Linked DNA regions of Homo sapiens: all the other regions are linked to region 3. Evidence: fine-mapped expression QTL. A gene starts in region 3. Each other region holds a variant in brackets. All regions are shown on one strand. Distances are between the middles of the regions.

Evidence for each region. PIP is the estimated chance that this variant, and not a neighbour inherited with it, causes the effect.
Region 1: its variant is the best candidate, but not a certain one, in a credible set for the expression of AKR1A1 in cerebellum (GTEx, PIP 0.83).
Region 2: its variant is the best candidate, but not a certain one, in a credible set for the expression of AKR1A1 in whole blood (TOPMed, PIP 0.88).

The regions. Positions count from the first base shown.
Region 1 is chr1:45,568,198-45,576,666 of GRCh38, forward strand. AKR1A1 (aldo-keto reductase family 1 member A1) reads left to right here. Exons shown (of 9, transcript NM_153326.3): 6 at 288-487; 7 at 730-802; 8 at 946-1,032; 9 at 1,694-1,852. The coding sequence ends at 1,759. Among named protein-coding and RNA genes, the nearest start is that of NASP, 12 kb to the right of the region's middle. The variant T/G (reference allele first, on the strand shown) is at 5,208.
Region 2 is chr1:46,278,917-46,287,385 of GRCh38, forward strand. LRRC41 (leucine rich repeat containing 41) reads right to left here. Exons shown (of 10, transcript NM_006369.5): 4 at 6,446-7,583; 5 at 2,209-2,469; 6 at 1,480-1,644; 7 at 1,276-1,374; 8 at 576-698; 9 at 266-341; 10 at 1-168. Among named protein-coding and RNA genes, the nearest start is that of LRRC41, 20 kb to the right of the region's middle. RefSeq lists an enhancer at 6,368-6,992. The variant T/G (reference allele first, on the strand shown) is at 4,927.
Region 3 is chr1:45,546,913-45,555,381 of GRCh38, forward strand. AKR1A1 (aldo-keto reductase family 1 member A1) reads left to right here and starts at 3,914. Exons shown (of 9, transcript NM_153326.3): 1 at 3,914-4,243. RefSeq lists enhancers at 3,597-3,656, 3,707-3,936, 4,167-4,386.

The DNA.
Region 1 (8,469 bases), 21 kb after region 3:
AGTGGTTTAGGGGTTGTCTGCTCAAGAGCATGAGGGAGCAGACGATGGATCTGCTTAAGGGAGATAGCTAGCAAGTTGTCAGAGTGTTGGTGCAGAAGTCCTCTGCATAAAGGTGGGCATTGAAGCAGTGGGAGAGAATGAAATTGCCGATGGGAAATGGTGAGAAAAGCAGGCTGAAGGGGAGTGGAGGAGTCAGCAATAGGGGGTGGTCCAGACATGCATGTCTGGGATGGGCCAAGCAAGCTGGGTGTCACCACTTCATGGTGATGGGTTATTCTTTGGCTCAGGTGGAATGCCACCCATACTTGGCTCAAAATGAGCTAATTGCCCACTGCCAAGCACGTGGCCTGGAGGTAACTGCTTATAGCCCTTTGGGCTCCTCTGATCGTGCATGGCGTGATCCTGATGAGCCTGTCCTGCTGGAGGAACCAGTAGTCCTGGCATTGGCTGAAAAGTATGGCCGATCTCCAGCTCAGATCTTGCTCAGGTATGGGGCAGTCTTAGGGAGAGGGCCCTGGGTTGGGAGGCAAGGGTTAAGGGATTTCTTATTTCAGTGTCTGGGTGAGGCTGAGGATCTTGCCTTGTGATCTGGAGGGAGGCCACTGTAGGCATATTTCCCATTTCAGCAGGGCTCAGGTGCTCCAGGAGCTTAGGGAAGCTGCATGGGGAACAAAATAGTGCTTATGAATACTGACCCCTTTTCCTCATCTGTCTAATCCCCCAACTTAGGTGGCAGGTCCAGCGGAAAGTGATCTGCATCCCCAAAAGTATCACTCCTTCTCGAATCCTTCAGAACATCAAGGTACTTGGTAATGGGTTCTATCTTCTTTAGCTCTTTGGGACATTTTCTTGGCCCTGACTCTACCTGGCTAAAAAGGCAGTGTTGTGGAACCCCAGCTTCTGCTCACAAAGCTGGCTTTCTTGAACCCCACTCTCCATCCTCAGGTGTTTGACTTCACCTTTAGCCCAGAAGAGATGAAGCAGCTAAATGCCCTGAACAAAAATTGGAGATATATTGTGCCTATGCTTACGGTGAGGATGTATCAGCCTCCTAGACTTGGGGAATGTGAGATTTGGGGTGGGATTCTGGCCCAGGTGTGACCTAAGGCTTGCTGGTTGTGAGAAGGACACAATGTTGTGGGTGGGATTGCTATGCTGGACATAGTGCCCTCATTTCTCTTTATTGAGCTCAGGGAAGTAGTATGGCTCAGGGATAAGGCATATAACCTGTGAGTCCCAGTCCTGCTTCTTGATATCTTGTAACCTAGAGCAAGTTATTAAACTTCTCCAAGCCTCAGCTTCCTATGTGTAAAATGAGCCCAGTTCCTGACATGTAGTAGATTCTCAGTAAATGATATGAGGAGAGCCCAGAAGGCGTTGTTGACCTCACTCGAGGGATTGGGGTTGGGAGGGAAGTCGGCTGTACTTAGGGAAATAAATGGTTCCTGGCCTCTTGATCTCAGTTCAGACTGCAAACTCTTAGGGGCAGGGGTAGCTACATATCAGGCTATGGGTTTGGTGCTAGAATGGTGTTGATACTGTGGTGTTCTCTGAGGATGGGGATCCCAGCCAATGCCATCTGGCATAGTGCTGTACACAGGTGAGTTTGTTTAGGAAGATTTGGGGAAGATGCCTGGAGTCTTTGGAATGGCAACTCCTGCTGATGGAGTAATCTATCTGTCTCTCTTTCCAGGTGGATGGGAAGAGAGTCCCAAGGGATGCAGGGCATCCTCTGTACCCCTTTAATGACCCGTACTGAGACCACAGCTTCTTGGCCTCCCTTCCAGCTCTGCAGCTAATGAGGTCCTGCCACAACGGAAAGAGGGAGTTAATAAAGCCATTGGAGCATCCATATTGCTTGCTTGTCTTATTTGCCTGGTCAGGCCTGAGATGGAGGCTGTTTCCCTCAGGGATGACAGACCTCGGGCTGCTGGATGTGACCTGCCCTTGAAGCCCAAATATTCATATCCTGGTTCTGGAGGAACCTGTGAGGAGGCTGAGTAATTCTGTATCCTTGCATTAGGCACGTTGGGAAGTAGCGCCATCTACTGGCACATCTTAAGCACTGCATGCTTCCCTGGAGTCTTCTCAAGAATGCCTCAAATTGGCCACCTCAGGAGTGAGCGATCAGGGCAATGATTGTCCGTTGGTTTCAAGGCAGTGCTGGACCTGGGCCTTAAGTTTCCATCCCCCTGTCCTGACCAGTGCCTAGGTTTAGTAATTTGAAGAGTCCAAGCGACTTACATTAAGAAGTTAGGGAATCCTAGCTTGCAAAATCACAAAAGGTGGGGACAGGGGCTTTCTCCATCAGACACTATAGTCAGTGTGCATAGGTGACCTGCAGGAGGCAACAGTCCTGCCCAGACCTTGTCACTCGGCCCCTAAGGCCCTATCTTATGCACTTTTTATTGGTGGGCACCAGAGACCACTGATAAACAGGTTTTAGGAAGGTTTATGGCAAATCTCTCTAACCTCCAGTCACACGAAACTCTTTACTTTCCCAAACCATTGCTCTTTGTTCAAGAAGTATTTATTGGGTACTTATGGGTTAGGCATGATGCTAAGCCCTGGGGATATAGCTATAACCAAGACACATAAGTCCCTACAGCCTACTTGAGGAGACAGACTAAGTAATTGCATAATTAGTTTAATTACAGTCGGAAGAAGTGTTATGAGAAGTGCAGGGCGAGTAGCCTACTTATTTAATCAGCTAAGATCTGAAAGATGAATAGGGATTAATTAGTTAAAGGAGGTAAGAGTGGGAACAGCATTCCATACAAATTGGACAGCTTAGGGAAAAGTCTTGAAACTGGAAGACGCTGCTGGAAAAGCCTAAAGAAGACTTGTAGGACAGCAACTAAAAGTAAGGGGGACCTGGTGGTAGAGGCGATGGCATAAAACAATGCTGGCATTGGTAGGAACTGATGATTGGAAGGCCTAAAAGACTGTTGAGATTTCTATTATTTATTTTTTGAATTGAGGTCTCTGTCACCGAGGCTGTAGTATACAAAAATTTTAAATTTTTATAGAGATTAGGTCTCCTTATGTTGCCCAGGCTGTTTTTTGTTTGTTTGTTTTGTGATGGAGTCTTGCTCTGTCACCCAGGCTGGAGTGCAGTGGCGCCATCTCGGCTCACTGCAACCTCCGCCTCCTTGGTTCAAGCGATTCTCCTGCCTCAGCCTCCTGAGTAGCTGGGATTACAAGTCCCCGCCATGACACCTGGCTAATTTTTTGTATTTTTGGTAGGGATGGGGTTTCCCCGTGTTGGCCAGGCTGGTCTTGAACTCCTGACCTCAAGTGATCTGCCCGCCTCAGCCTCCCAAAGTACTGGGATTATAGGCGTCAGCCCTCCCAGGCTGATTTTGAACTCCTAGGTTCAAGACTCCTAAATTCTTGGCCTCCCAAAGTGTTGGGATTACACGTGTGAGCCACTACACCCAGCCGCTTCCAAATCTTTGTGAACAGTGCTGCAACAAACATGGAAGTGCAGATCTCTCTGATACACTCATTTCCTTTCTTTTGGGTATATACTCAGCAGTGAGATTGCTGGATCATATCGTAGCTCTATTTTTAGTTTTTTGAGAAACCTCTAAAATGTTCTCCATAGTGGTTGCACTAATTTACATTCCCACCAACAGTGTTTGAGGGTTCTCTTTTCTCCACATCCTCTCCAGCATTTGTTATTGCCTGTCTTTTGGATAAAAGCCGTTTGAACTGGGGTGAGATGATATCTCATTGTAGCTTTAACTTGCATTTTTCTGATGATCCGTGATGTTGAGCACCTTTTCATATGCCTGTTTTCCATTTGTATGTCTTCTTTTGAGAAATGTCTATTCAAATGTTTTGTGTATTTTCACTGGATTATATTTTTTCCCATAGAGTTGTTTGACTTCCTTATATACTCTGGTTATTAATCCTTTGTCAGAGAGATAGTTTGCAAATATTTTCTCCCATTCTGTGGGTTATCTCTTCACTTTAATGATTGTTTCCTTTGCTGTACAGAAGCTTTTTAACTAGATGTGATCCCATTTGTCCATTTTTACTTTGGTTGCCTGTGCTTGTGGGGTATTACTCAAGAAATTTTTACACAGATCAATGTCCTGGAGAGTTTCTCCGGTGTTTTCTTGCAGTTGTTTCATATTTCGAGGTCTTAGATTTAAGTCTTTAATTCATTTTGATTTAATTTTTGTATATGGTGAGAGATAGGGGTCTAGTTTCATTCTTCTGCATATGGATATCCTGTTTTCCCAGCACCATTTATTGAAGAGACTGTCTTTTCCCCAGTATGTGTTCTTGGCACGTTTGTTGACAATGAGTTCACTGCAGGTGTGTGGATTTGTTTCTGAGTCCTCTATTCTGTTCCATTGGTCTATATGTCTGTTTTTATGCCAGTACCATGCTGTTTTGGTTACTATAGCTCTGTAACAAAATTTGAAGTAAGATAATGTGATTCCTTCAGTTTTGTTCTTTTTGCTTAGTATAGCTTTGGCTATTCTGGGTCTTTTGTGGTTCCATATAAATTTTATGATTGTCTTTTCCATTTCTGTAAAGAATGTCATTGATATTTTGATAGTGATTGCATTGAATCTGTAGATTGCTTTCAGTAGTATGGACATTTTAACAATATTGATTCTTCCAATTCATGAACATGGAATATCTTTCCATTTTTTTGTGTCCTCTTCAATTTATTTTGTCAGTGTTTTATAGTTTTCATTATAGAGATTTTTTCTTTGGTTAAGCTCATTCCTAGATATTTGGTTTTATTTGTAGCTGTTGTAAATGGGATTACTTTATTTCGTTTCCAGACTGTTCAGAAATTAGTCTTGACTTAAACATCTCACCCTGCCTAACATTAACATTCTCTATAGCAAATGTCTATTTTGTTGTTGTTAACAACTTACCTGAAAAATTAGCAACAGACATCTTTGTCTAATCACTGTGGTTGTAGGAAAATCCAGGTTCTTGTCACATGAACAGGAAAGATTAGGCTCGCAGAAACTTTGAGGGGTGAGGGGGATGGAATTTATTGGGGAAAAAGGAAAAACAACACAGCAAAGCAAGAGAGGGGTTCCTGTTAACAGGCCCTCATCTCACAGATTGAATCCCAGGTTCCACACAGGAACAGGAGGGGCCAGGCTCCTCCCCACTGCAAACAGCATGAACTTCCATGGCTCCACCCCATTCTCCCAGTGCGCAGGCCAGTCAGA[T/G]GTTCTCTGGGAACCCCTTTATACTTGGCTGTCTCATTCCCCCGTCTAAAGAAGTACATCTAACTGCTCTTAGAGTGAGGCTAAGGACAAAGACCAATCTTAACTGCTTCCTGCTGACAGGGGGTGCTGTTTTGGGAAGACGGCAGTCAGATCTCCCTCAGAGGCCTATATTAGGGTCCCCTGCAGAAGGGGCCATTGTCCAAGGCTCTGGTTGCATGTCTGTTTGGAGTTTGATGGCCTGAAGCTGAGAAGAGACAAACTGGGTTATTAGAAAACATGTATCAAACCAAAACAAGGGTAAGGACAGGTGAAAAATCATGAGGCCTTTTACCAGTTTGTATGGGGAGAGGGAGGCCAAAAGCCCAATTGGTAAAAAAAACTTTTACCCTTTTGCTGGCATGTCAGGCTTCTGGGTTCCCTTCCTCTGAGCCCAATTCTAAGTTAGCCAGTTTAAGGTTCGGGAAATTAACTCTTTCTCAATTTGGAGGATTATCTGAGGGGAGAAAAAAAAGGTGTTTTTTCAAAGGAGTCCCAGGAGTTCAAGATGCATTCAAAAGGAGTACAAACTGAAGGTGAATGGCTACTCATCTAGAAAGGGGCAAGCAGGCGCCCCTAGTTCCTTTCTCTTCCTACCAAATACCTGGGGTATGTGAGGGAGGGAAAGTGAGGCATTCCTCTTTCTTTCCACCATCCTTGTATCCCTGAGTCCTGGCGAATGCAACAGCATGCCACCCATGGGTGTTAAAGAGGCTTTTACCCATGTTAACTAGCGGGGCTGGGGGAGGGAATTATTCACTCTACTCACATACGCCTTATCTCCCCTGCTGTAAGTAGCCGTGAATTCCCTAGACTTCATTTACGCCATGGATACTAGCATGACTTTTATCCATGAAACAGAAAGCTTAGCTTAATTGGCAGGAGTCAGCCACGCTCACCTGTGCTGTGCCTTTTAACTTCCATTATCTTCTGCCTCTGGATCCCTCAGATCCAGTCTTCTTTCCTAGGGCTTTGACCCAAAGCTTGGAATTGAGTTTGAGACAAAAATGTGTCTTGGAGGGAGTTGCACGGACTCCTTATCATAAGCCAAATGCTAAAGTGAAGCTGTGGAATTGAGTCCTCCCCCAACAAGGGAAAGAAAAGGTTGTCTTGTGACACACCCAGATAACTGGTGGCTATAGTTATGCTTGCTAGGATTTGGGTGCATGGTGCTTGGCTTTGGTTAGCTCCCTTGGTCTTGCTTTCCCAAAAAGGAAACCCCCAGGTGATGGGCACCCTATTTATTCCCATTGCCTGGCAGGATTTGATGTATAATTGCTCAGAACAAGAATATTGATCCAGATTTCTACATTACCCATCCCTTTTGTTCTTTCTGAGCTGTAGCTGGAGATTGCTGGTTGGTTCACAGGAACAAGCAGGGTTAGTCTAAAATGCAGGCAAAGACTTAAAAACAACTAATTAGTTTAGAATTTAATGACAAATGAAGTCGGGTGCGGTGGCTCACGCCTGTAATCCCAGCACTTTGGGAGGCCAAGGCAGGTGGATCATGAGGTCAAGAGATTGAGACCATCCTAGTCAACATGGTGAAACCCCATCTCTACTAAAAATACAAAAATTAGCTATGGTGGTGTACGCCTGTAGTCCCAGCTACTCAGGAGGCTGAGGCAGGAGGATTGCTTGAACCCTGGAGGAGGAGGTTGCAGTGAGCCAAGATCGCACCACTGCACTCCAGCCTGGCAACAGAGCGAGACTGTCTCAAAAAACAAACAAACAAACAAACAGAATTTAATGACAAATGTATACGTTTTGAAACATAATTTCTTTCTCTGCAGTTCTCATTTATTTTTATTTTTATTTTTCAATTTTTCTTTTGTTACCAGTTCTCATTTCTGTTAAAAAATCATGATAGGACTGAGTTGTTTGCAAAATAGACTTTAGTCTTATACTTGGCCTGATTAGTTGCATAAAGTGCAGCAAGAATAACTATTTCTACATAGGCCTTTTAGATTGGCTTTGATGCAACTCTTTTCCACAAGGACTCTTAGAGAAGACCTTTTAAAGCCGAGCCCAGCCATGGGTCTGTATCCTTAAATACCTGTGAGTTGAGTGCTCCTCTTCTCTTAAGGTCCCAAGATAAACTTGGAACTCTGGGCCAGTTAGAAAGTGACACTCTTGGCTGGGCATGGTGGCTCACACCTGTAATCCCAGCACTTTGGGAGGCCAAGGCAGGCGGATCACGAGGTCAGGAGATCCAGACCATCCTGGCTAACATGGTGAAACCCCATCTCTGCCAAAAATACAAAAAAAAAAAAAATTAGCCGGGTGTGGTGCCACATGCCTGTAGTCCCAGCTACTCAGGAGGCTGAGGCAGGAGAATAGCTTGAACCTGGGAGGCAGAGGCTGCAGTGAGCCAAGATCATGCCACTGCACGCCAGTCTGGGCGACAGAGCAAGACTCTGTCTCAAAAAAAAAAAGGAAAGTGACATTCTTTACTGACCACAGGTCAGGAACCCTGTACAGGGACTGTGTAGGCAAGGGTATGAAGCCAGTTTTCTCCCCAAGGGGATTTTTTTGGCTCTGCAACTCGAGCTTGACTGCTTAAAGGGAAGCATACCCTTGCACTCAAAGCCTTGGTAAAACAACCAGTTTCTCCAGTTGCATCCTGTTGCAAAAGAAAATGGATTCTTACTGCACTGATGCAAACAACTATATTACCACAAGTTAAAAATACTCACAGAGGCTGGGTGCAGTGGCTCATGCCTGTAATTCCAGCACTTTGGGAGGCCGAGGTGGGCAGATCACCTGAGGTCAGGAGTTCAAGATCAGCCTGGCCAACATGGTGAAACGCCATCTCTACTAAAAATACAAAAATTAGCCAGGCGTGGTGGCAGGCACCTGTAATCCCAGCTACTTGGGAGGATGAGGCAGGAGAATTGCTTGAACCCGGGAGGTGGAGGTTGCAGCGAGCTGAGATCATGCCATTGCACTCCAGCCTGTGTTGTGGGAAGTCAGGAACCCCGAATGGAGGGACCGGCTGAAGCCACGGCAGAAGAACATAAATTGTGAAGATTTCATGGACATTTATTAGTTCCCCAAATTAATACTTTTATAATTTCTTATGCCTGTCTTTACTTCAATCTCTGAACATAAATTGTGAAGATTTCATGGACACTTTTCACTTCCCCAATCAATACCCTTGTGATTTCCTATGCCTGTCTTTAATCTCTTAATTCCGTCATCTTCGTAAGCTGAGAAGGATGTATGT
Region 2 (8,469 bases), 730 kb after region 3:
CTAACCACATGGCAGGTAGCCCGGAGCCGCCGGATGGCTTCCCTGGCTGTGACTGCATCCTGGTCCAGCCAGTTTTGGAAGAGGCGCAGGTGACCAAAGGCTCCACGGCCCCAGCGCTCCAGCCGCTTGGCGAACTCCAGAAGCCCATCTGGCTTGATGCAGTTGGAACTGGTAGGGTGAGATGGATTAGATATCCAGGAAGCAGTGAATTCCTGGTCTATATCTCTGTAGCCCCATCCCTTGTCTTGCCCCTCCCCTCATGTACCTGATGTCCAGCTGACAGAGAGAGGAGGATGAATCCTCTGAGAAAACATCTGCCAAGGCCAGCAGGCCAGCATTCCCTGGAGAGAAGGGGAGAACGCCTATCACCTCCACCCAAGAACAGGGGACAAGGGTATCCCAACCCAACTATGGCTGGCAGAACCAGCCCTGCTGGTTCCTGAAGCCCCAGCACAGAAATATCTGTATTCCAACTCCCACGTTCCCAGTGGAGAGGTCTTTGCCTTTATCCAGTGAGTTTTTAGGTCAAAGGCCTAGCTCCTTTCCCCTCTCCCTCCCCAGGGTCTGGCCCCCACCCAGGCGGTTCCCTGGCAGCCGGAGGCCCTTCAGTGTGGAGTTGCCCTTCATAGCAGCAACCATCTCAGGCAGAAATTGGGCTGGGCGCTTCTCAAACAGACGGCAGAAGGAGAAGGTAATCTCTGTCAAGAAAAATTATAGTAAATTCTGATGGCTGCATTAGGACTGGTGCTGCCCCTCCTGCCCCAGTTGGCCCTAGCAAGGGGTATTAACATTATAGAGGCCCAAAAAGAGGAAGGAATTTGTCTAGACTCCAAGCAAGGCTGGAACTAAATCAGAATCCAAACTAAAGACTGAACCTAAATGTTCCCTATAAGAAGGTTCTCTGCATGGACAATTCTCCATTCACTTCCTTCTTTCCCTAACACTGGCCACCCTCTATGCGGGGGTGGGGATCAGAGAAAAGTCTATGAGGGGAGCCTGGCACAGTACATTTATTTTGCCCCACCACCACCATTTTGTCCACCTCTGAAAGGTAAGAGCAACTTTTGGGTGAAGCACTCTAAAAGAGCGATTTCTCATGTTTAGTAGAGGAGGAATTGAGGTTGGGGCTTTTAGAAGGAAAATCATGCAGGTTCTATATCCATTTTATAGCTGAGGACACAAGGCCAAGAAAGGAACAGTGGTTTGCTCACTCAGATTATGGCAGAACCATAGTGAAGACCCAGGAAATGTCCAGGTTCTGAATAAGGAACTTACCTTGCAGAGTCAGATTCTGTAGCAAAAAGAGCACCTCGCTCTGACAGTCAGCGAGATTCATGTCATGGAAGCTCAGTCTTTTCAGGGCTAGGTTGTACTCTGGATAGGAGGCAGAGACCATGGACCATGGACCTTAGCTTTCCTAGAGAACAGTGCTAGGTCCCCACCTACTCCTCTCCCTTCACCATTCTGGCTGGGTCCTACCTTTGAGTGTTTGCAAAACAAGCCCAAAATCCTGGGGAGAGGCAAAGGTGGCACTATCCAGGGACAGCTGCTGCAGAGAACCCGAGGCCTTCAGAACGGAGCACAGCAGTGGGGCTGGCTGGGCTCCCCGTGGAAATCCCATCTCCAACTGCTCCAGGCAGTTTTCTGGATATGGTGGGGAAAGAAGATTCCAGCTGGCCATCTCTACCTCACTCCCATAGCAGGTCCCATCCTGTTCTTAAGGGATTCATCTAAAAAATTATTTATTCATTCACTTGTCGTTGAGTGCCTACCATATGTCAGCACTGTGCTAGATTCTAGGAATTGAGCACTAAATATGAGATTTAGTCCTTGCCCTTGTAGAAATTTTAGACCAGGAAGACAGGCTACCCAGACACAAGCAAATAAAGTATGCAGAGTGGTGGGATAGGAGACATACAAGAACTAAGGGAACATACAGCAGGGGAACTAATCCAGTCTAAAGATCAGTTCTTTTCCTTTTCTGGAGACCAAGCTGCCTTGGTCACTCTCTGCTGGTCTTATGGTGGTTTAGGCCCTGTCTAGCTCAAGAGTATCTTAGTGGTAGGCTCTAAAGGGGGGATAGGTTCCAGATAAGCCAGGAATGAGTGATAGAAGAGGTCCTTCCCCTTTCCCCATACGAATGCATCTGCACCTTTGTGTGGGGATACACGTGCGTGCACACACACAAACACACACACAGTGCTTCACCTGGTATCTCCTCATCGCCTATTATGTGGCTAGGGGGCCCTGCATTCCCTGGCACACCAGGGTTGTCCCGCTGGCTTGGGTGGTCAACACGAATAGAGAGGACCCGTAGCAGGGGCAGTGCTCGCACGATAGCACGTGTCAGCTCCAGGATGGGCAGTGGTGAGAACAGGTCACTGAGATGCAGGGCACGGAGGCGACATCCAGCCTGGCCTGACAGGGCCCGCAGGCTGTCTAGCAGGCGGAAGATGTTAGAGCCCAGGCCTATGGCAAGAAAGAGATTAAGTCAGAACCATGTGGGAGTGTCAGCAGGGGTAATATATTCAAATACAACTCCAAATACTTTTGGTTACTAGCAAATCTCTTGGGCTTTGGCTCAGCTTATTTAAACCCATTTGTCTTAACTACTCATCCATGTCTTGCTTTTTCCTTAGGTAACCAGCAAACTGAGGTCTGCTGTTTTGGGTTATGCCCACAAGAAGCACCAGTCAGGGCAGAGTCACAAAATTGAGAAGATACAATATGGTGAGGCAGCATGTGGCTACTAGCTGAATGACAGGCACAGACAGTAGCAGTTCTCTGGATTTCTGGGTTCTGAGTAGTTTTCTGAAGAAACTGGCCTTGAAGGAAGGAAGTTTTGGATAGAGGGAGAAGACATAGTCAAGAGTCCCAGCTAGCCGGGAGCGGTGGCTCACGCCTGTAATCCCAGCACTTTGGGAGGCCAAGGTGGGCAGATCACTTGAGGCCAGGAGTTCCAGACCAGCCTGGCCAACATGGTGAAACCCTGTCTCTACTAAAAATACAGAAATTAGCTGGGCTGGGTGGCACATGCCTGTAGTCCCAGCTACTCGGGAGGCTGAGGCAGGAGAATCACTTGAACCCAGGAGACGGAGGTTGCAGTGAGCTGAGATCACGCCACTGCACTCCGGCTTAGGTGAAAAAGCAAGACTGTCTCAAAAAAAAAAAAAAAATCACAGCTAGGAGAGTGCAAGGCATGAATGAGACGCTTGCTTGTTTGGCTACATGAGGCTCAGGAAACAGCTCTAGAGGGCAGGGCACTGGAGGCCACATTATGGAAAGGCAAAGGGATGGTTTAACCTAGACGCAATAGGGAGCACCTAAAAACTATGGAGAGTGACAGTGACCCAACTGGGATACTTAAAAGAATCAATGGGTGGGAATGGGGCAGGAAAAGATAACCAAATCCCACAGCATGGACTAGGATCCAGGAAGGTTGGTTGCTTAATGCCACAGGCAAATAATTCCTTGGACTATGCAGGCTCCTGTTCATTCATTCAACTACCCAGTGCCTACTAAATATCAAGTTTTTTGCTAGACACTAGTGAGCAGCACATTGCTTTTTTTTCTTACATAGCTTGATAATGCGATGGGAACTGGGGGAATAAAGTACTATGAAATTACAAAGGATGAGTACCTAGTCCAGCTTACATCAGTAAAGGCACTCCAGCTAAGTCCTAAAGAACATAAAGGGGACAGGCTAAAATTTAGGAAGAATGATTGTGGCAGAGGCAACTTGGCATATGTAGAGGCCTGAAGGAGAACAAAAAAATTTCATAATGGCTGGTGTGAGAGTGTGAAGGGGGGAAGCATTCAAGATACAACTATAGGCCAGGTGTGGTGGCTCACACCTATATAATCCCAGCACTTTGGGAGGCTGAGGTAGGCAGATCACCTGAGGTCGGGAGCCCAAGACCAGCCTGGCCAACATAGTGAAACCCCGTCTCTACTAAAAATACAAAAATTAGCTGGGCATGGTGGCATGTGCCTGTAATCCCAGCTACTGAGTCAGTAGAATTGCTTGGACCCGAGAGGCGGAGGTTGCAGTAAGCCAAGATTGCACCATTGCACTCCAGCCTGGGTGACAACAGAGACTCCCTGTCAAAAAAAAAAAAAAAAAAGATACAACTATAGAGATAACCAGGAGTAAGAATATGAATGACCACTAAGTAAAATTAAGCCATTGAAGGGTGTTTGCATAAATGAATGACAGGGTCATTTTTGACTGATTTTTTTAAAGAATCAAGACTGCATTTTTCAAAGGATGCTTGGGCTGCAGTGCAGATAATGGATTTGTATGGCAAGAGTAAGGAGTCCGGAGGAACTACTGAAATTAGTTCAGGTAGTGGGTAATGGTAGCTTGAATTAAGGATGTGGAGATAGAGAAATAAATGTATTTAACAAATTGTAAAGATAGGGCTGGGCTTAATGGCTCATGACTATAATCTCAGCACTGTAGGAGGCCGAGGTTGGTGGATCACTTGAGGCCAAGAGTTCGAGACCAGCCCGGCCTATATGGGGAAACCCTGTCCTTACTAAAAATATAAAAATGCATTCAAGTTGGATGTAATGAGTTGGGTGGGGTATTGTGGGTTATGAAGTTGTCATGTCTACTAGCTGGATAAATGGGTCTGGAAGTTCAAGAGAAAGATCTGGGGTAATGTCACATAATGGGGAGTCTTTAGCATAGTTGGCCTTTGAAACCACAGGAATGGATGAAATTGTCCAAGAAGCGTGCATAAAGTGGGAAAGCTCTGAGGAACTCTGAATAAACAGAGGAGGAGAAAACTTTTTTTTTTTTTTTGAGATGGAGTCTCACTCTGTTGCCCAGGTTAAAGTGCAGTAGTGCAGTGGCACGATCTCCAGTCACTGAGTAGCTGGGATTACAGGCGCCCACCATCACGCCTGGCTAATTTTTGTATT[T/G]TTAGTAGAGATGGGGTTTCACCATCTTGGCCAGGCTGGTCTTGAACTCCTGACCTCGTGATCCACCCACCTTGACCTCCCAAAGTGCTGGGATTACGGGCGTGAGCCACTGCGCCCGGCCAAGAAAACATTTTTTAAGGTAGTGAAAAAAAATTTAATGAACAGCAGTAAATCCTGCCAAGAAGAGTTACTGAAAAGTATACATTGGATCTAGTAACAAGGAGGACCCTGATGACATAGGTCCTTGCCAGTGCAGTGGTAGGGGTATAAGAGGCTGGAAGGGGCTGTGAGTAAGAGAAGTGGAAACAGTACAGATAACTAAGGTTGTGAAGAACAGGAGATAACAGTTTATTAATATGGCATAGAGGGAGGTGGTGGTGGCAGTTTTTGATGGAGACCTGTTAAAATGCTGATAGGAGAGAGACGGTGGAAAGGAGAGTAGCATAGTTGTTTGAAAGCATGAATCTGCAGTCTGGTTGCCTGGGTTTTGAATCCTAGCTCTATAATTGCTAGGTTATCCTGAGGAAGTCACTTGCCCTCATAGGGTTGTGAGGATTGTTAGATCAAATTATCAAGAATACTTAAAATATGCCAGACACATACTAAGCAGTATATAAAAATTAGTTTGAGAAACAAGCTTCCCTAAGAAGGTAGAATGCTTGTTTCTCAAACTGGTAATTTTTATATACTTTGTTGTGAAGCTCTATGCATCTAGAGCACAGGTGGGAGAATTAGCCTTAGAAAGGATGGTGGTCTCTTCTATTCTGGTAAAGAAGGATGAGTGCAGATGGAGAGTTTATAGGCTGCTTAGCAAGCTAAAGAAACTCATGTGTGATGGCTTCTATTTTCTCTGTGAAGTAGGTGAGGTCATCCCTGAGAAGGGAAAAGGAGAGTTTGGAAGTGGTAGGAATGGGAGCTGATGTTGCAAGCACAGTGAAGGTTCATACGAGGTTAGTGATCATATAGTAACACTGATTTGCATAGTTGTATGATTTGTCTCTAGCAGTGCTCAGCAACCTAGGCGGATTGCTGGATTTAGCCAGAGTTGAGGTTTTGCTAGCTGGTCACAAGCAGGAGGGAAATGAGGACTGAGGACTGCTTTGCAGGTTGTTGGTCTGATAAGAAATTGTGTCCCACACCTTGTCTGGACAGCTACTCTGATATGACTGGTGAGGTGGTGAGGTCAAACTCTAGCCCTGCCTGAGCATGCATATACTATACTGCTCCCACCTGCCCTTGGACTGCCTTCCATATCTAAAATGTATTCATTCTTCAGATTCCAGCTGGCTTGTCTCACTGCCCCTCAGGAACCCCTGCTTTCAACAACTAATCAAGTGTATAGACTTTATGTTCCTCTCTTCTAGCAATGACAGTCTCCCCTGCTATGAGGCATACAAGCCTTCCTCTCTAACCTCCTGATCATACCCCCAATTTGCCCCTCCCACCTCCCTAGAATTAGGCACACAGCTGGTGCTGCTAGGCAATCTAAGCCCAATCCCTGCCACTCCAGGGTGCTCACCATTGTAGGAGAGTGTGAGGCTCTCCAGTGACACCCAGGAGCTCAGCAGGTGGCATAGTGTCAGGGCTGCCTCTGTGGAGAGTGGAACTGTGAATAGCTCCAAGGTGGAGATGCTGCGGAATCTTTGTGAAGCTTCCAGTGCTGGAAGCCCCAGGCAGCTGGGATCTGATCCATCCAAAGCTCCACAAGCCACTTCCCCAATCTCCATCTCTTCGCCATCCTCCTTCTCGCCAGCCACAATAAAAACGAAGTCATACAGGTCTTCAGACTCTGCACCAGGCCCCTGACGGGTGCGAGCACCCTTCTTCCCTGCAGCTCGCTTGAAACGCTTTAGGGGCTTAGGCTGTGGGGCTGAGCTAGCTGGTGCCCGTTTGTATGAGGATGTAGAAGAAGAGGCAGAGGAGGTGGCTGCTGGAGCAGAAGGTGACCGCTTGGTGCCAGGAGCCTCATGGGAGGTGGCTGGGGGGTGCAGCTCCCTCTTAAGGTCTGTTCCGCCTGCTGTCAGGCTCTCCTGTGTGCTCCGGCGTGTTACCCGAGTGGCAGGTGCAGCTCTGGGCATCTGCTTGGCTTCACTCTTACGCCGGCTGGCCATCAGGGCTGCAGCACATCGCTCAGCAGCATCCCGGCGGGGCCGACGTGAGCCCAATAAGAGGGACCCTTCATCTCGGGATGGGGCCCGGCCTCGGGAGGCCTCTCCACAGAGGCGGCAGGGTGGGCCACCAGGCCCTGGTTGCCAGAAGCCAGCACTCATGGTGAGAATAAGGATGAAAAGGGCTGACTCAGGCACAGGCCAGGAGTATAGCGACACTTGACTGACAGCCCCATGGTGAATGAGCTGATGCAACAGCTGCCGAAGTGACTGCTGAGCAGCCACATCAGAGAACAGCAGGTGGCGGAACTTGAGAGTGTGCAGGGAGCTGGCCAGGGTCTCCAGAACCCTGCGGTTGGGCTCAGCCACCAGCTCGGTTGCACCCTGCAGCATGTTACAGATGGTGAGCTGTCGGACATGGCGGGAGCTGTGCAGAAGAGGTGAGAACCGCTGATCACAAAGACGCCTGTCAGAAGACACATCAATGGTCCCACGTAGAACATGGGAAAAAAAGGCCTCCATAAACTTGGCTCGCCAACATGTCACACTCTGAAACGCAGAAAACATGCCAGACAGCCATGATATATCCATGAAACTGTCCAAATTTCCCTCTCTTCCAATAGCACACTATTTACTGAGTCAGGCAACACTACAAATTCATTTAATCTTCACATCTCTGAGGTATGTATTATTATTAGCCCTATTTTACAGGTAAAACCGAGGCACAAAGAGGTGGCCACACAGGTAAGTGGTTGGATTATTTGAACCCTGGAAATCTGGTTCCAGAGACCATGCTTTTATTATAGTGTCTCCACTGAAACACTCACCCCTGTAAGTTCTTCCATGTTTGTTTCTAGAACCTTATCCCAATTTTTTTTTTCTTTTTAAGATAGAGTCTCACTTTGTAGCCTAGGCTGGAGTGCAGTGGTGTGATCTCAGCTCACTGCAACCTCTGCCTCCCAGGTTCAAGTGATTCTCGTGCCTCAGCCTCCAGAGAAGCTGGGATTACAGGCGCCCGCCACCACACCTGGCTAATTTTTGTATGTTTCATCATATTGACCAGGCTGGTCTTGAACTCTAGACCTCAAGTGTTCCGTCCGCCTTGGCCTCCCAAAGTGCTAGGATTACAGGTGTGAGTCACCGCACCTAGCCCCTTATCCCAACTTCATTTTTTTTTAGACGGAGTCTCACTCTGTCGCCCAGGCTGGAGTCCAGTGGCGTGATCTCGGCACACTGCAAGCTCTGCCGCCCGGGTTCACACCATTCACCTGCCTCAGCCTCCCGAGTAGCTGGGACTACAGGCACCCGCCACCACGCCAGGCTAATTTTTTGTATTTTTAGTAGAGATGGGGTTTCACCCTGTTAGCCAGGATGGTCTCGATCTCCTGACCTCATGATCCGCCCGCCTCGGCCTCCCAAAGTGCTGGGATTACAG
Region 3 (8,469 bases):
TCCACTTTCATATCTCCTGTCTCTTCCACTGGACCCTTCCCCGCTGCTTAGCACGTGGTCATGCTCGCATTTCCCACATAGTGAAAAACTCTCCCTCCATCTGCATCAAGTCACTATTAACCCATAACTTTTCTTCCTCTTACTTTTTTTTTTTTTTTTGAGACAGGGTCTCACTCAGTTGCCTAGGCTTTGTAGTGGTGGGTGCGATCACAGCTCACTGCAGCCTTGGCCTCCCAGGCTCAGGTGATCCTCCCACCTCAGCTTCCCAAGTAGCTGAGAACACAGGTGCATGCTACCATACCCAGCTAATTTTTGTATTTTTTGTAGAGATGGGATTTCACCATGTTGCCCAGGCTGATCTTGAGAACCCCTGGGTTCAAGTGATCTGCCTGCCTTGGCCTCCCAAAGTGCTGGGATTACAGGCATGAGCCACTGTCCCTGGCCTTTACTGTATCCTTGAGAAGTCCTTCCTCTGATTCTCCATGTCTTCATCTCCTGTTCATTCCTGAATTCAGGTCATCTGGCTCAGGATTAACCATTCCACTGAAGGAGCTCTCCACATTGGTCACCAATGATCTTCATGTCCACCAAATCCAAAAGTTTCTGCTGTGGATATCAGACAACATGAATATAAAGACTATGGTAAGTAGTGGATGCTCAATAAAGTGGTTGTTCTTATATTCTTATTTGCTCACTTCTGTTTTTTTGTTTTTTAAAAATTATTATTTATTTTTGAGATGGAGTCTTGCTCTGTCGCCCAGACTGGAGTGCAGTGGCACCATCTCGGCTCACTGCAACCTCTGCCTCCCAGGTTCAAGCAATTCTCCTGCCTCAGCCTCTCAAGTAGCTGGGATTACAGGCACCTGCCACCATGCCCAGCTAATTTTTGTATTTTTAGTATTGATGGGATTTCACCATGTTGGCCAGGCTGGCCTCGAACTCCTGACCTCAGGTGATTGGCCCGCCTCGGTCTCCCAAAGTCCTGGGATTACGGGTGTGAGCCACCACACCTGGCCTGTTTGTTTTTAGACAGGGTCCTTGGTAAAAAGAATTTGAGGGGAAAAAAAAAAAGAGACAAGGTTTTGCTCTGTTGTCTAGGCTGGAGTAGAATGGCACAATCATGACACACTACAGCCTCGAAGACCTGGGCTCCAGCAATCCTCCCACTTCAGTCTCCTAAACACCTGGGACTATAGGTGTGCACCACCGTGCCCAGCTAATTTTTATATTTTTTGTAGAGATGAGGTTTCACTATATTGCCCAGGCTGGTCTTGAACTACTAGGCTCAAGTGATCCTCCCTTCTTAGTCTTCCACAGTGCCGGGATTACAGCCATGAGCTACTGTGCCTGGCCTGTAGGTTCTTCTTTTACGTATTTTTTTTTTTTTGAGACGGAGACTTGCTCTGTCACCCAGGCTGGAGTGTAGTGGTGCGGCTCACTGCAACCTCTGCCTCCTGGGTTCAGGCGATTCTCCTCCCTCAACCTCCTGAGTAGCTGGGACTGCAGGCGCGTGCCACCATGCCCAGCTAATTTTTGTATTTTTAGTAAAGACGGGGTTTCACCATATTGGCCAGGCTGGTCTCGAACTCTTGACCTCGTGATCTGCCCGCCTTGTGCTGGGATTACAGGCGTGAGCTACTGCGCCCGGCCCCTTTTTTTTTGAGACAGAGTTTTGCTCTTGCTGCCCAGGCTAGAGTGCAATGGCACAATCTTGCCAAACGCAACCTCTGCCTCCTGGGTTCAAGTGATTCTTCTGCCTCAGCCTCCTGAGTAGCTGGGATTACAGGGATGTGCCACCTCACCTGGCTAATTTTGTATTTTTAGTAGAGATGGGGGTTCTCCATGTTGGTCAGGCTGGTCTCGAACTCCTCACCTCAGGTGATCTGCCTACCTCGGCCTCCCAAAGTGCTGGGATTACAGGCGTGAGCCACCATGCCTGGCCTATTTTATTTTTTTTTGAATACAGGCTGGAGTGCAGTGGCGCGATCTCAGCTCACTGCAACCTCCGCCTCCCTGGTTCAAGTGATTCTGTTGCCTCAGGCTCCCAAGTAGCTGGGATTACAGGCTCGCATCAATACATCCAGCTAATTTTTTTTTTTTTTTTTTTTTTTTTTTTTTTTTGAGGGGCAGTCTCGCTTTGTCAAGAGGCTAGAGTGCAGTGGCTCGATCTCGGCTCACTGAAACCTCCGCCTCCCGGGTTCAAGCGATTCTCCTGCCTCAGCGTCCTGAGTATCTGGGACTACAGGTGCGCGCCACGACGCCTAGCTGAATTTTTTTTTTTTTTTTTTTTGAGATGGAGTTTCACTCTTGTTGCCCAGGCTGGAGCGCAATGGCGCAATCTCAGCTCACCACAACCTCCGCCTCCCAGGTTCAAGCAATTCTCCTGCCTCAGCCTCCCGAGTAGCTGGGATTACAGGCATGTGCCACCACGCCCGGCTAATTTTGTATTTTTAATAGAGACGGGGATTCTCCATGTTGGTCAGGCTGGTCTCTAACTCCTGACCTCAGGTGATCCGCCTGCCTCGGCCTCCCAGAGTGCTGGAATTACAGGCGTGAGCCACCGCACCCGGCCAAGTCTGATTGTTTTTATGAGGATGGCCTGATACATTAGACATTTGGTCCACCAGGACATCACTTATGTTGGGGAGACAGTGGGGGATAACGGGGGTGGGGAAATGGGAAGAGTTGCTCTCAGGGAGTAAAGGTGTGGGGAAAAGCAGAGCCAAACCGAGATAACCCTGTGTCTTGCCCATCCCTGCCAAGGAAAACACATACATGCAAGACACCTCTCCACTCAAACAGCACAGACTATTTCAAATCGCAGATGTGTCATTTAATTAATACCTGTGTGACTTTGGGAAAATTATAAATAGCCTTAACCTTGCTGAGTCTGTCCAATCTGTAAAATGGATTATGAATACTTTCCTCACAGGCTTATGGTGTGCTGGTAATATCTTCCTCTGGATGGCAGTTACATTGCAAAAAATAATTTAAAAAAAAGAACTGTATACATTTAAGATTTATACATTTTCTTTCTTCCTGGATGTAGAATAGGAAAAAAAGAAAAAGAAAAAAAAAAAGACTGGTGTATTTTCTGTATATATGCTATACTACGATTTTTAAAAAGGCTTGTACGAAATAAAAGAATATTCCTTTTCGGCCAGGCGCAGTGGCTCACTCCTGTAATCCCAGCACTTTGGGAGTCCAGGGCGGGTGGATCACGAGGTCAGGAGTTCAAGACCAGCCTGGCCAAGATGGCGAAACCCCGTCTCTACTAAAAAATACAAAAAAATTAGCCAGGCGTGGTATCGGGCGCCTGTAATCCCAGCTACTCGGGAGGCTGAGGCAGAGAATTGCTTGAACCAGGGAGGCGGAGGTTGCAGTGAGCCAAGATCGCGCCACTGCACTCCAGCCTGGGCGAGAGCGAGATTCCGTCTCAAAAAAAAAAAAAAAAAAGGAATATTCCTTTTCCAGGATTATTATGAAGATTCAATAAAACCATGTTTATTAAGTGTTAAGCACAGTGCCTGGCACATAACGTGCTGGGCGGGGTCTATGGTCCAGACAGGGGGACCAGGCACTTTCCAGCGCCTGGATCTGCAGACGCGAGGTCTTCTGTATTCTGGCCAATCTTGGTGTTGCAGCTGCTCTCTGGGCCTCAGTTTGCTTGAACTAAATGTAACGGGGCCAACTTAGGTGAACTTTGGGAATCCAGCCAACCTGACTTTAGGGAGAGTATGGAGCCACGGATGGCATTGTGAATCCGGAGGGCCGACACCAGAAGAACCTGCAACGTGGCATCTGCTACCTTACTTCCCCCGGAAAAGCGCCTGCGGCGGCGCCTAGGCGCGCGGTGCAATGTGGGCCAGCAAAAGGCGAGGCTGGCCCCGCCCCTTGCACCGCCCACGTGGCCAGCGCCACCTGCCTCATTGTGCCCAGGAGTTCTCCAAACCCGCGCTGCGGAGTGAGTGACCAAGTTCCGGCCAGTTCGACCTCGAGGATCCAGAGGTGGAGACGGTACTACCTCCCAGCTCTGTTTTCCATCCCCTTCAGGTCCTTCCTCGGGAGGCGGCGAAGGCGGTCCACCCTGCGCGTGATCCTTTATGCCCGGCCCCTGCCCCTCCCTCCGGGTGGAACTTCCCCCTCACCGCCAGACTTAAGCTGAGGATCGTTGGATCTCTGGCGGGGTGCAGAACTGAGCCCAGGCCACAGTACCCTATTCACGCTCTGTGCTTGTGCCAAGGTGAGTTTCTCTTGCTGCTGGCCTATCTTTCTCCCGGAGGAGATGGCCTCGATTCTTTACTACTGAAATGTAAGCCCCTGGGGTTGAGTGGAGAGCGCAGAGCACTGGAGGGGACGAGACTTGGTTTCGGATTTGAGCTCTTCTTTTTCTCTGTATGATCTCTTGCTAACTTCCCAGTTTCTCTGAACCTGTTTCCTCAGCAATAAAATGAGGTCCTACATTAGAACTGTAGCAAGAATTGAGATAAAGCTTTGAAGGCGCACAGCGCATACTAGGTGATCTGCAAGTTTTAATTGCCATCTTTTTGTTTGCTCACCTATGTGCTTTTTCCAGCTGCTCCGGCTTTCTTATGCAGGTGCAGGGATAGTTCTCAGAAGTGGGGAGAAGTGGGGATAATTCTCTTACTTAGACACCTGCTTTGGGTCTGAGAAAGTCTGACATGTTATTCTGTTGCCCCAGAACTCTGTTAAAGTAAGACACAGATCTGAACCTTCACTGGATGAGGCTACTGTTAATTAACTCTTCCCCTTCAGATCGTTCATACTCAGGGCTGCAGGCCTGTTACTTTTCCAAGATCTGTTTCCTTATCTTTAATACAGGAGCAATCTCAGTATGATTCTATCTGGTCCACTGGGATTTTTTGCCGAGTATAGTAAAGTGCTTTGATATTCTCCAAGAGGATTCTTTTCAGGTTTTCCAACAGGTAAAGGAAGAAGGTGACAGAGGCAGCGACTTCCTCAAATGTCCTTCCAGCTGGCCAAACTCAACCTGTCAAGATCTCTCCCCCATAAGCTGTGTGTGTGTGGTGTGTGTATTGTGTACATTGTATGTATGTATGTATGTATGTATGTATGTATGTATGTATGGGACAGGTACTCTAGGAGTGAGGGGTTCAGGCAGATGACAGGCTCAGACCTCAAGGAGTAGCCAGGTTTGTGGGGGAAATTTATATATAAACAGAAAAATGTAGTGATGTGCACATGCTATCAGTACATGGAAGTAGCCATCCATTTATTTATTTATTTATTTTCTTTTTAGAGATGGATGGGGGTCTCTCGGTCTTTTGCCCATGCTGGAGTGTAGTGGTGGAATCCTTGCTCAGTGCAGCCTCAAACTTCTGGGCTCAAATAATCCTGCCACCTCAGCCTTTGGACTATAAACTACATGCCACTGTGCCCAGTTAATCTTTAAAATAAAAAAAAAAAAATTCCCCCTAGCAAGCAGACTCAGAAAGAAAAAAACAAATTTTTGTAGAGACAGTGTTTCCTTTTGTTGCCCAGGTTTCAAGTGATCCTCCCGCCTCAGCCTGCCCAGGTGCTGAGATTACATGTATGAGCCACTGCACCTGGAAAGGAGCCAGAAATGTGAAGTGCTAGCTGAAGGATGAGCAGCAGCTAGCCAGGCAAAGGTAGGGTTTGGGGAAGGAAAGTGCACACACCTAGAGTCAGGTAAGTGATGTGACCCTGTTGAGTGTTCAAAGTCTGGAATACAGTCTGACATGAGGAGGTGGTGAAATGAGAAAGATAGAAGCCAGGTTTTGAGAAGCCTGGACTTTATCCTGAATATAGGGGAGAATTGCTGGAAGGGTTTGAGACTGGGAGTCACATGGTTGGATCTGGTGATGGACTGCGGGAAGAGGGACCACTCTGGAAGCCAAGATCTGTGGTTTAAGTAAAGAGTGATGGTCAGCTGGGCACAGTGGCTCATGCCTGTAATCCCAGCACTTTGGGAGGCCAAGGTGGGTGGATCACCTGAGGTCAGGAGTTCGAGACCAGCCTGGCCAACATGGTGAAACCCTCTCCGTACTAAAAATACAAAAAGTAGCTGGGTGTGGTGGCACACACCTATAATCCCAGCTACTGGGGAGGCTGAGGCAGGAGAATCACTTGAACCCGGGAAGCAGAGATTGCAGTGAGCCGAGATCATGCCACTGCATTCCAGCCTGGGCAACAGAGTGAGACTCTGTCTCAAAAAAAAATTTAAAAAGGCTGGGCACAGTGGCTTATGCCTATAATACCAGCACTTCGGGAGGCTGAGGCGGGCAGATCACGAGGTCAAGAGATGGAGACCATCCTGGCCAACATGGTGAAACCCCGTCTCTACTAAAAATACAAAAATTAGCTGGGTGTGGTGGCATGCGCCTGTAGTCCCAACTACTGGGGAGGCTGAGGCAGGAGAATCGGTTGAACCTGGAAGGCGAAGGTTGTAGTGAGCCGAGATCACACCACTGTACTCCAGCCTGGCGACAGAGCGAGACTCTGTCTCAAAAAAAAAAGAGTGGTGGTGGTCAGAGATGGGGCAGTGGCAGTGGAGGTAGATATGGATGGACTAGAGAAAGATTTAGGAATATATATTTTAAAATTCTTTTCACATACATCAAGAAGTACAGGAAGCATTATTGCAATCTTAGGTCTTAGGTTACATATTAGAGCATTCTCTTTTTCTGTAGCTATTAAGTATTAACAAGATTTAAAACCCAGCTAAACTGACAAAATCTGGCCAACATTACATATGTAAGGTGATTTTCCAAGCTGGCTTTTCTAGAAGTATAGGAGAGGCCGGGTGTGGTGGCTCATGCCTGTAATCCCAGCACTTTGGGAGGCTGAGGTGGGCGGATCACGAGGTCAGGAGATCGAGACCATCCTGGTTAACATGGTGAAACCCTGTCTCTACTAAAAAATACAAAAAAATTAGCTGGGCATGGTAGCGGGCACCTGTAGTCCCAGCTACTCGGGAGGCTGAGGCAGGAGAATGGCATGAACCCGGGAGGCGGAGCTTGCAGTGAGCCGAGATCACGCCACTGCCCTCCAGCCTGGGTGACAGAGCGAGACTCCGTCTCAAAAAAAAAAAGAAGTATAGGAGAAAGCCAGGTGTGGTGGCTCACACCTGTAATCCCAGCACTTTAGGAGGCCAAGGTGGGAGGGTCACTTGAGGCTAGAAGTTTGAGGGGGCAACACAGTGAGACCCTATCTCTACAAAAGAAAAATAAGGCCAGGCATAGTGGCTCACACTTATAATCCCAGCACTTTGGGAGGCTGAGGCAGAAGGACCACTTGAGCCCAGGAGTTTCAGACCAGCCTGGGCAACAAGGAGAAACCCTGTCTCTACGAAAAACACAAAAAATGAGCTGGACATCGTGGCCCATGCTTCTAGTCCCAGCTACCTGGGAGGCTGAATGGAAAGGATAGCTTGAGCTTGGGAGGTGGAGTTTGCAGTGAGCTGAGATCACACCACTGCCCTCCAGCCTGGACGTTAGAGCGAGACTCTGTCTCAATAAATAAGTAAATAAATAAGCTGGGTGTGGTGACATGTGCCTGTAGTCCCAGCTACTCGGGATTGCTCCAGTCCAGGAGTTCGAAGCTGCAATGAGCCATGAATGGGCCACTGCACTCCAGCCTGGGCAACAGAGTGAGACCCTGTCTCAAAAAGAAAAGTACAGGAGAAAATACTCTCCTCACCAACTACTTATCAAAACCATAATCTGATAATACTCATAAATGCCTGCAAGGAACTACAAATACTTTCTTTAGATGGCTTTTATTTATTTATTTTTTAGACAGGGTTTCAGTCTGTGGCCCAAGCTGGAGTGCAGTGGTGTGATTTCAGCTCATTGCAACCTCTGCCCCCCAGGCTCAAGGGATCCTCCTGCCTCAGCCCCCTGAGTAGCTAGGACCATAGAGACACATCACTATGCCTGGCTAATTTTCATATTTTTTGTAGAGATTAAGTTTTGCCATGTCCCCCAGGCTGGTCTCGAACTCCTGGACTCAAGCAATCTGCTTGCCTCAGCCTCCCAAAGTGCTGGGATTAACAGGCATGAGCCACCACACGCAACCAGATGTTTTTTTTTAAGGCCCAAATGGATTATACTATCAACATGTTGTCTGGTTTGCTTTAACACTTGTTATCCAGGGCTTTGGTCTTTTGGTGAGATAGAGTACAAAGTCAACACTCTATCCACAAGTTGTGCATCTGCGGATTCAACCTAGAATCAAAAATACTTGGGAACAAAAACCAACTTTAAAAATTCAAATAAAAAAATACAGTATAGGCCGGGCGTGGTAGCTCACGCCTGTAATCCCAGCATTTTGGGAGGCCAAGGTGGGTGGATCACCTGAGGTCGGGAGTTCGAGACCAGCCTGACCAACATGGAGAAACCCTGTCTCTACTAAAAATACAAAATTAGCCAGGCGTGGTGGCGCATGCCTGTAATCCCAGCTACTCGG